2 separate regions of the Homo sapiens genome follow, and region 1 is linked to region 2. The links come from fine-mapping of genetic effects on gene expression. A gene starts in region 2. The other region holds a variant in brackets. All regions are shown on one strand. Distances are from middle to middle. Region 1 overlaps CYP4F2 (cytochrome P450 family 4 subfamily F member 2). Region 2 holds the start of CYP4F11 (cytochrome P450 family 4 subfamily F member 11).

Region 1 (4,256 bases), 50 kb after region 2:
ATGGACTTGGATTTCTGGAAAAAGGATGAATCTTCAGAGACTGTCTCAGATTAGACTCAAGAGCCCTTAGAGCTAGTGTGACTTTTTATGGGGGTGGGGGTTGGGGGGGGTTACTGCCTTCTCTCCAGGATGAAGACGGGAAGAAGTTATCTGATGAGGACATAAGAGCAGAAGCTGACACCTTTATGTTTGAGGGTGAGGGCCCCAGTGTGGGGCTAGAGAGGGGACCGGGATCTCTCCCTTCCAGGAACAGGGTGGGTAGACCCCCACAACCTTCCCATCCCCCTTCCCCCATCCTCCCTGAGGCCCTCAATGCATGGGTGCTGTCTACCTTCGGGTGCTGAAGCAGCCCAGAGACCCAAGCCTGCCTTGCTGCCCCCCAGGCCATGACACCACGGCCAGTGGTCTCTCCTGGGTCCTGTACCACCTTGCAAAGCACCCAGAATACCAGGAGCGCTGCCGGCAGGAGGTGCAAGAACTTCTGAAGGACCGTGAGCCTAAAGAGATTGAATGGTGAGTGCAGGTGCTTGTGGCCTCTTCCTGAGACCTTCTCATTGGCTCTGCTCCCCAGGTGGGGAGGGGAGGAAAAGCTGTTTTTGTTGATTCTGCCACTATTGCCTAGTGGGAATAGGAGCAGAGGACCACAGGCAGGACTTAGTACCCATCCTGACTGTCTGGGGAAAGGTTATAGGCCCTTAGGACAGAAAGACCTGGGCTTCTGAGAGAGTTGGTGATGATATGTGAGGACAGATAACGCCACTTAGACGTGTTCAGCAAATGAACTTCCCCTCCACTCTCTTCCTTTCCTCCCAGAAATATCATTTTTTTTGAACATCTTCACTTCTTGAATGTTTGCTCTTCTGTTCCCTAATTCCTACTCTCCAGTCGAGTCCAGGGTTTTATAAGGGAGACCTAGGGGTAAAATTCATCCATTCTTGTCCGGAACACTTGCACTGTTCATCCGTCCCATCCTTATTCAGCAAACACTCCCACACTGCATTTTCACCCCCACATCTGTGCACAGCATCTTTCTGTGCTCTGGAGACCTGGGAAGGAACCAACCCAGGGATCTGTTTTCCAGGTGCTCCCAGCCTGGTGGTGGAGCTGTCCCTGGGCAGGACACTCCCAGCCCACATGGGCAGAGATGGGATTTACAGTAAGAGAAGCAGGACTAGGGGGTATAGAAAGTGTCTCAGTTGAGAGCCTAAATAATGATCAGTAGATAATTGGGTACAGTTGGGGGGCAGTGCTCTAGGTCAAGAAGACTGCCTGGGGTCTTTGGGGGAGGAAGAGAGAGGGAGGAAGAGAGAGAGGAGAGCGAGGGAGAGAGAGAGAAGGAGAGAGAGAGAGAGCAGGGTCAGGACAGAAAGGAGGAGAAGGGGAGAGAGAGGGAGAGACTGAGTTGTAATGAGATGATAAAACCGGAGATGGTAGCAGGGGCTGGCTGTGGAAGCCTTGGGGAAAATGTTAATGGCTTCAGTTTTAGCCCAATGGCAATAGGGAGCCATGGGAAGTGTTTGAGCAGTGTAGGGACAGGTCACATCTGGGTACCAGGAAGATCTTTCTAGGGCTAGTGTGGAGGGCGTACTGGAGAGGACCAGCTGTAGAATGAAGGCACAGTGGGGACATTCTGAGACCAGAGCCAGGCCAGGGGCTGGAGGAAGGAGAGGAAGCATTGGAATGGACGGATGTCTTGGATTCAGTGTCCTCTCGTCCACACCTTTGCCCAGCACAGCAGTCCAGTGAGGAGGAGAAACATTTTTCTGCTTTTAAAACCAATAATTTTTCTGCATTTTTAACAAACAATTTTTTATTGCTGCATAAATAGATGCACATAGATTTGAAATACATGTGATAATCTAATACATTCATATAACTGGTAAAGATCAAATCAGTGTACTTGGGATATCTGTCGCCTGAAATATTTAGTCTTTTCTTTATGCTAGAAACATAACTAACATAAGCTAACTATTTAGGAATATACAGTACATATCGTAAACTATAGTGAACCCACTGATCTATCAAGTGCTAGGTTTTATTTCTCCTATCAAACCTCTTATTTATGCCCGTTAATCAACTTCTCCTCACCCCTCCCTCCCTTCTACCAATCTACCTTCTACTTTCATGAGATCCACTTTTTCAGCTCCCACATGTGAGTGAGAACATGCGATATTTGTCTTTCTCTTTTTGGCTTATTTACTTACCACAGTGACCTCCAGTTCCATCCATGTTGCCACAAATGACAAAATTCCAGTGTTTTTAATGGTGCATAGTATTCCATTGTGTATACATGCCACATTTCCTTTCTTCCTTCCTTCCTTCCTCCCTCCCTCCCTCTCTCTCTTTCTCTCTTTCTTCTTTCCTTTCTTTCTTTCTTTGAGACAGAGTCTTGTTCTGTCGCCCAGGCTGAAGTGCGGTGGCACGATCTTGGCTCACTGCAACCTCTGCCTCCCGGGTTCAAGCTATTCTTCTGCCTCAGCCTCCCAAGCAGCTGGGACTATGGGTGCACACCACCA[T/C]GCCTGGCTAATTTTTGTATTTTTAATAGGGCTGGGGTTTCACCATATTGGCCAGGCTGGTCTCGAACTCCTGACCTCATGATCTGCCTGCCTCGGCCTCCCAAAGTGCTGGGATTACAGGCATGAGCCACCGCACCCGGCCGCCACATTTTCTTTATCCATTCAGTTGATGGGCACTTAGGTTGATTCCATATTTTGGCTGTTTTGAATAGTGCTGCAATAAATACGGAAGTATAGATATCTCTTCAACAGTTTTATTTTCTTTCTTTGGGATAGAAATTTCTTCTCTTTCTTTTCAGTAGTGGAATTTCTGGGTTATATGTTAGTTCTACTTTTAGTTTCTTGAGGAACCTCTGTGCTGTTCTCTGCAGTGGCTGCGCTAATTTATATTCCTGCCAACAGTGTGTGAGAGTTCCCCTTTCTCCATATCCTCACCAGTGTCTATCGTTGCCTGTCTTTTTGATAAAAGCCATTTTAACTGGGATGAGATGATATCTCATTGTGGTTTTGATTTGCATTTCTCTGATGATTAGTGACATTGAGCATTTTTCCATCTATCTGTTGGCCATTTGTATGTCTTATTTTAAGAAATGTCTATTCAGATCTTTTGACCATTTTTAAATAAGATGATTTGAGTTCTTTTTCCCCTATTGAGTTATTTGAGCTCCTTATATAATATATTCTGGTTATTAATCGCTTGTCAGATGAGTAATTTGAGAATATTTTCTGCCATTCTGTAAGTTGATTCTTCACTTTGTTGACTGTTTCCTTTGCTGTGCAGAAGCTTTTTACCTTGATGTAATCTCATTTGTCTATTGCCTGTGCTTTTGAGGTCTTAACACAGAAAATCTTTGCCTGGACCCATGTCCTGGAGTATAAAATCCAGATTTCAAGCAAAATTATGGATGTGGTTAAAAGAAAGGGTCCAAAAAATTTTATGATAAAAATGAGCTTCCTTATTAAGCTCCACCTTAGCAGTGACTATGGTCAACAGTTTTCTGTGTATTCTTCCAGAAAATGGCTATCCCAATGCCCACATTTATATGAATTCACACTGTGATTTTTATTTATATGAACACATACTGTGTTTTTCTTTGTAAAGAAAACTATACAAAATAGACGCAGTTCTGGACATTATCTCTGAGATCTATTTTTCTTAAAATACGAGTTTTCAAAAATGAGTTTGTTTTTAAATTGTTCTTTCATTGATAAATTTTAATTATATATATTAGAGGTACAATGTGATGTTATGATGTATGTATACAACCTGAAATTATTAAATCAAGGTAATGAACAAATCCATCACTTCATATATTTATCATTTTTATGTTGAGAACATATATATATTAGAGGTACAATGTGATGTTATGATGTATGTATACAACCTGAAATTATTAAATCAAGGTAATGAACAAATCCATCACTTCATATATTTATCATTTTTATGTTGAGAACATTTGAAATTTACTCTCTTAGCAATTTCAATTAATACATTGTTCACTAAATCACCATGCTGTGCAGTAGATCTCAAAAACTATTCCTCTTGTCTAACTGAAGCTTCTATCCTTTGACCAACATCTCACCCTTCTCTATCCCTCCCTCAGCCCTGGCCTCTGGTAACCATCATTCTGCTTCTATTTCTTTTCTTTTCTTTCTTTCTTTTTTTTTTCATTTTTGAGATGGAGTCTCGCTCTGTCACCCAGGCTGGAGTGCAGTGGCACGATCTCAGCTTACTGCGAC
Region 2 (4,256 bases):
GGTGTGCTTTATGTAGAGTACCGGACACATGGAGTCACAGTTTATGAAGAGTACCCAGCACCCAGAGTAGGCACGCTTTATGTAGAGCACTTGACACACAGTAGGTGCACTTGACATAGATCACCAGGCACGTAGTAAACATGCTCTACATAGAACATCTGACACACAGTAGGTGTGTTTTATATAGAGCAGCAGGTGCAGAGTAGGTACACTTTACATAAGTTACTCCGCACAAATTTCACTTTATATAGAGGACCGAGAACAAAGAAGCAAGATTTTCTGTAGAGCGCCCAGCACACAGTGGACACACTTTTCATAGAGCACTTGGCACACAGTACACAACATGTATACAGAGTACCTGGCACATGGTAGGTGTGCTTTATTTAGAGTCCAGTACACAGTAAAAGAACTTTGCATATTGTCTTTTGCAAAGAGCAGAGACTGACACACAGCAGCTAAAGTGCTAGCTGCCAGCCCCTTCCCTTCACTCCCTCCTCAGAATCTTTCATCTGTCCCCATCTAAGGCCCATTTTCCTGTGATCCCTCCTCTGTCCCCCTCTAAGGCCTTATCTGACATCCCATTTCCCAGATGGGAAGCCTGAGTCCAGGAGGGGCTCACTACCCACAGTTAGGGCAAGGGGAGGGCAGAATAAGGACTCCACTCAGGGTCCCCCATCTCTGCCCTCCTGTCCCTGGCCCCATCCACTCATGGCCCCTCTCAGCCTTACCTCCCATCTCCCCTCTCTGTCCTCCTATGCTGAACCTAGCCTCCAGGTATTCTCCTCCAGCGGGGCTCTTTATCTCTAAAATCTGACCGGGTAATCCCCAGCACAGTTAGATAGTTTGTTCCTACTCCTGTCAGTCATGTCTCGACCCAGGCCCTGGGTTGCCTGGAGGCAGGACTTGAACTCCTGCCAGACTGTGAAGCCAGAGGCCAGGAGCTTCTGTCTCTGAATCTCCTAAGTCTGCACTGAGAAATGGTGCATGATGAACTCCTGGACCACATGTGGAGAGGAGCTCAGAACATGATCTGGCACAATGGTTGGCCTGGCCCCACTCTCTTGCCACCTGAACTCTCAAGTTCATGACTTTATCTGCCACACTCTTGCCTTGGAAGGGCAAGGTGGCTGTAAACTTTGGGGCTCAGAGTCACCTTTGACTCTTCCTCAAGATCCCCTCCCACTCAGGTGTGAGATGTTGAGACCTGCGGATCCTGTGCCCATGCTGTGTCACCCTGAGCTGGCTCCTCTGCACCCAGCTGGCCCTACGCCAGGTTTTGGTTGGTTGCCCAGGCTTGGAAGACACACCCAGTCCATGGGGATTGGCTCGACCAGCCCAGCCCAGCCTCGCCTCCCACAGCCTTCCGGAAATCAGGGGCCAGAGGCAAAGACCTCCTAGCAGAGGGGGAGAGGAGGGTATGTGGGACAAGCTGCTTCTGATAGGAGCCAGGCTGGCAGTGGCAGGGCTGGAGGGTCCTGGCCTGGGATGGGGAGGGGACTGCCCAAGGTTGGGGTGGGTCAAGGCTGCTGGCCTGGGAGACTGGTGATTTCCTGGTAACTGGACCCCTGGCAACCTCCCAGTGATTCAGGCTGGGCCTTTTTGGATTCTAATCAGCCTCTCTCTCTCTTTCCCTTTCTGTGTAACTGGAGGCCACTTGGCTGCTGGTTTTCATTGGGCATTTCTGGACTTTAGATCTCAGCTCTTGTTTACCCATCTCAGAGCCTTCCCTGATCTGCCTCCAGCACTGCCCATCCTTGCCCCTTTCCACTGTCCTTGGAGCTTCCTGGGCCCTTCCCTGGGCCTCAGGATCCCACCCTCCATCCCGTCTGCCCTGCAGGATGCCGCAGCTGAGCCTGTCCTGGCTGGGCCTCGGGCCCGTGGCAGCATCCCCGTGGCTGCTTCTGCTGCTGGTTGGAGGCTCCTGGCTCCTGGCCCGCGTCCTGGCCTGGACCTACACCTTCTATGACAACTGCCGCCGCCTCCAGTGTTTTCCTCAACCCCCGAAACAGAACTGGTTTTGGGGACACCAGGGCCTGGTGAGTTTGTCAGCAGGACGGGTCTGGGGTCTCAGGATGCATGGAGTTCCTGAGGGGCAGGAATGGGGCTCAGGGAGCTGGGTTTTGAGGGTGGCTGGGGTGTGGGAACACAGAGAAGAGAGGGAGGCAGCTCACTCATTCCTCTGCCCACTCACTCATTCCTCTCCCCGCTCACTCATTCCTCTGCCCACTCACTCATTCCTCTGCCCACTCACTCATTCCTCTCCCCGCTCACTCATTCCTCTCCCCGCTCACTCATTCCTCTCCCCGCTCACTCATTCCTCTCCCCGCTCACTCATTCCTCTGCCCACTCACTCATTCCTCTTCTCGCTCACTCATTCCTCTGCTCACTCACTCATTCCTCTCCTCACTCACTCATTCTTCTCCTCACTCACTCATTCTTCTCCTCACTCACTCATTCCTCTGCTCACTCACTCATTCCTCTCCTCACTCACTCATTCTTCTCCTCACTCACTCATTCCTCTCCTCACTCACTCATTCTTCTCCTCACTCACTCATTCTTCTCCTCACTCACTCATTCCTCTCCTCACTCACTCATTCTTCTCCTCACTCACTCATTCCTCTCCTCACTCACTCATTCTTCTCCTCACTCACTCATTCTTCTCCTCACTCACTCATTCCTCTCCTCACTCACTCATTCTTCTCCTCACTCACTCATTCCTCTCCTCACTCACTCATTCTTCTCCTCACTCACTCATTCCTCTCCTCACTCACTCATTCTTCTCCTCACTCACTCATTCCTCTCCTCACTCACTCATTCTTCTCCTCACTCACTCATTCCTCTCCTCACTCACTCATTCCTCTCCTCACTCACTCATTCCTCTCCTCACTCACTCATTCTTCTCCTCACTCACTCATTCTTCTCCTCACTCACTCATTCCTCTCCTCACTCACTCATTCCTCTCCTCACTCACTCATTCCTCTCCTCGCTCACTCATTCCTCTCCCCGCTCACTCATTCCTCTCCTCACTCACTCATTCCTCTCCTCACTCACTCATTCCTCTCCTCACTCACTCATTCCTCTCCCCACTCACTCATTCCTCTCCCCGCTCACTCATTCCTCTCCTCGCTCACTCATTCCTCTCCTCACTCACTCATTCTTCTCCTCACTCACTCATTCCTCTCCTCACTCACTCATTCCTCTCCTCACTCACTCATTCCTCTCCTCACTCACTCATTCCTCTCCTCACTCACTCATTCCTCTCCTCACTCACTCATTCCTCTCCTCACTCACTCATTCTTCTCCTCACTCACTCATTCCTCTCCTCACTCACTCATTCCTCTCCTCACTCACTCATTCCTCTCCTCACTCACTCATTCCTCTCCTCACTCACTCATTCCTCTCCTCACTCACTCATTCCTCTCCTCACTCACTCATTCCTCTCCTCACTCACTCATTCCTCTCCTCACTCACTCATTCCTCTCCTCACTCACTCATTCCTCTCCTCACTCACTCATTCCTCTCCTCACTCACTCATTCCTCTCCTCACTCACTCATTCCTCTCCTCACTCACTCATTCCTCTCCTCACTCACTCATTCCTCTCCTCACTCACTCATTCCTCTCCTCACTCACTCATTCCTCTCCTCACTCACTCATTCCTCTCCTCACTCACTCATTCCTCTCCTCACTCACTCATTCTTCTCCTCACTCACTCATTCTTCTCCTCACTCACTCATTCCTCTCCTCACTCACTCATTCCTCTCCTCACTCACTCATTCCTCTCCCCGCTCACTCATTCCTCTCCCCGCTCACTCATTCCTCTCCTCGCTCACTCATTCCTCTCCTCACTCACTCATTCCTCTCCCCGCTCACTCATTCCTCTCCCCGCTCACTCATTCCTCTCCTCGCTCACTCATTCCTCTCCTCGCTCACTCATTCCTCTCCTCGCTCACTCATTCCTCTCCTCACTCACTCATTCCTCTCCCCACTCACTCATTCCTCTCCCCGCTCACTCATTCCTCTCCTCGCTCACTCATTCCTCTCCTCGCTCACTCATTCCTCTCCTCACTCACTCATTCCTCTCCTCACTCACTCATTCTTCTCCTCACTCACTCATTCCTCTCCTCACTCACTCATTCTTCTCCTCACTCACTCATTCCTCTCCTCACTCACTCATTCTTCTCCTCACTCACTCATTCCTCTCCTCACTCACTCATTCTTCTCCTCACTCACTCATTCCTCTCCTCACTCACTCATT

What was found. PIP is the estimated chance that this variant, and not a neighbour inherited with it, causes the effect.
Region 1: its variant is the best candidate, but not a certain one, in a credible set for the expression of CYP4F11 in gastroesophageal junction (GTEx, PIP 0.52).

The regions. Positions count from the first base shown.
Region 1 is chr19:15,882,181-15,886,436 of GRCh38, reverse strand. CYP4F2 (cytochrome P450 family 4 subfamily F member 2) reads left to right here. Exons shown (of 13, transcript NM_001082.5): 8 at 129-195; 9 at 384-513. Among named protein-coding and RNA genes, the nearest start is that of CYP4F2, 14 kb to the left of the region's middle. The variant T/C (reference allele first, on the strand shown) is at 2,517.
Region 2 is chr19:15,931,991-15,936,246 of GRCh38, reverse strand. It overlaps CYP4F11 (cytochrome P450 family 4 subfamily F member 11), which reads left to right and starts at 1,718. Exons shown (of 12, transcript NM_021187.4): 1 at 1,718-2,036. The coding sequence starts at 1,839.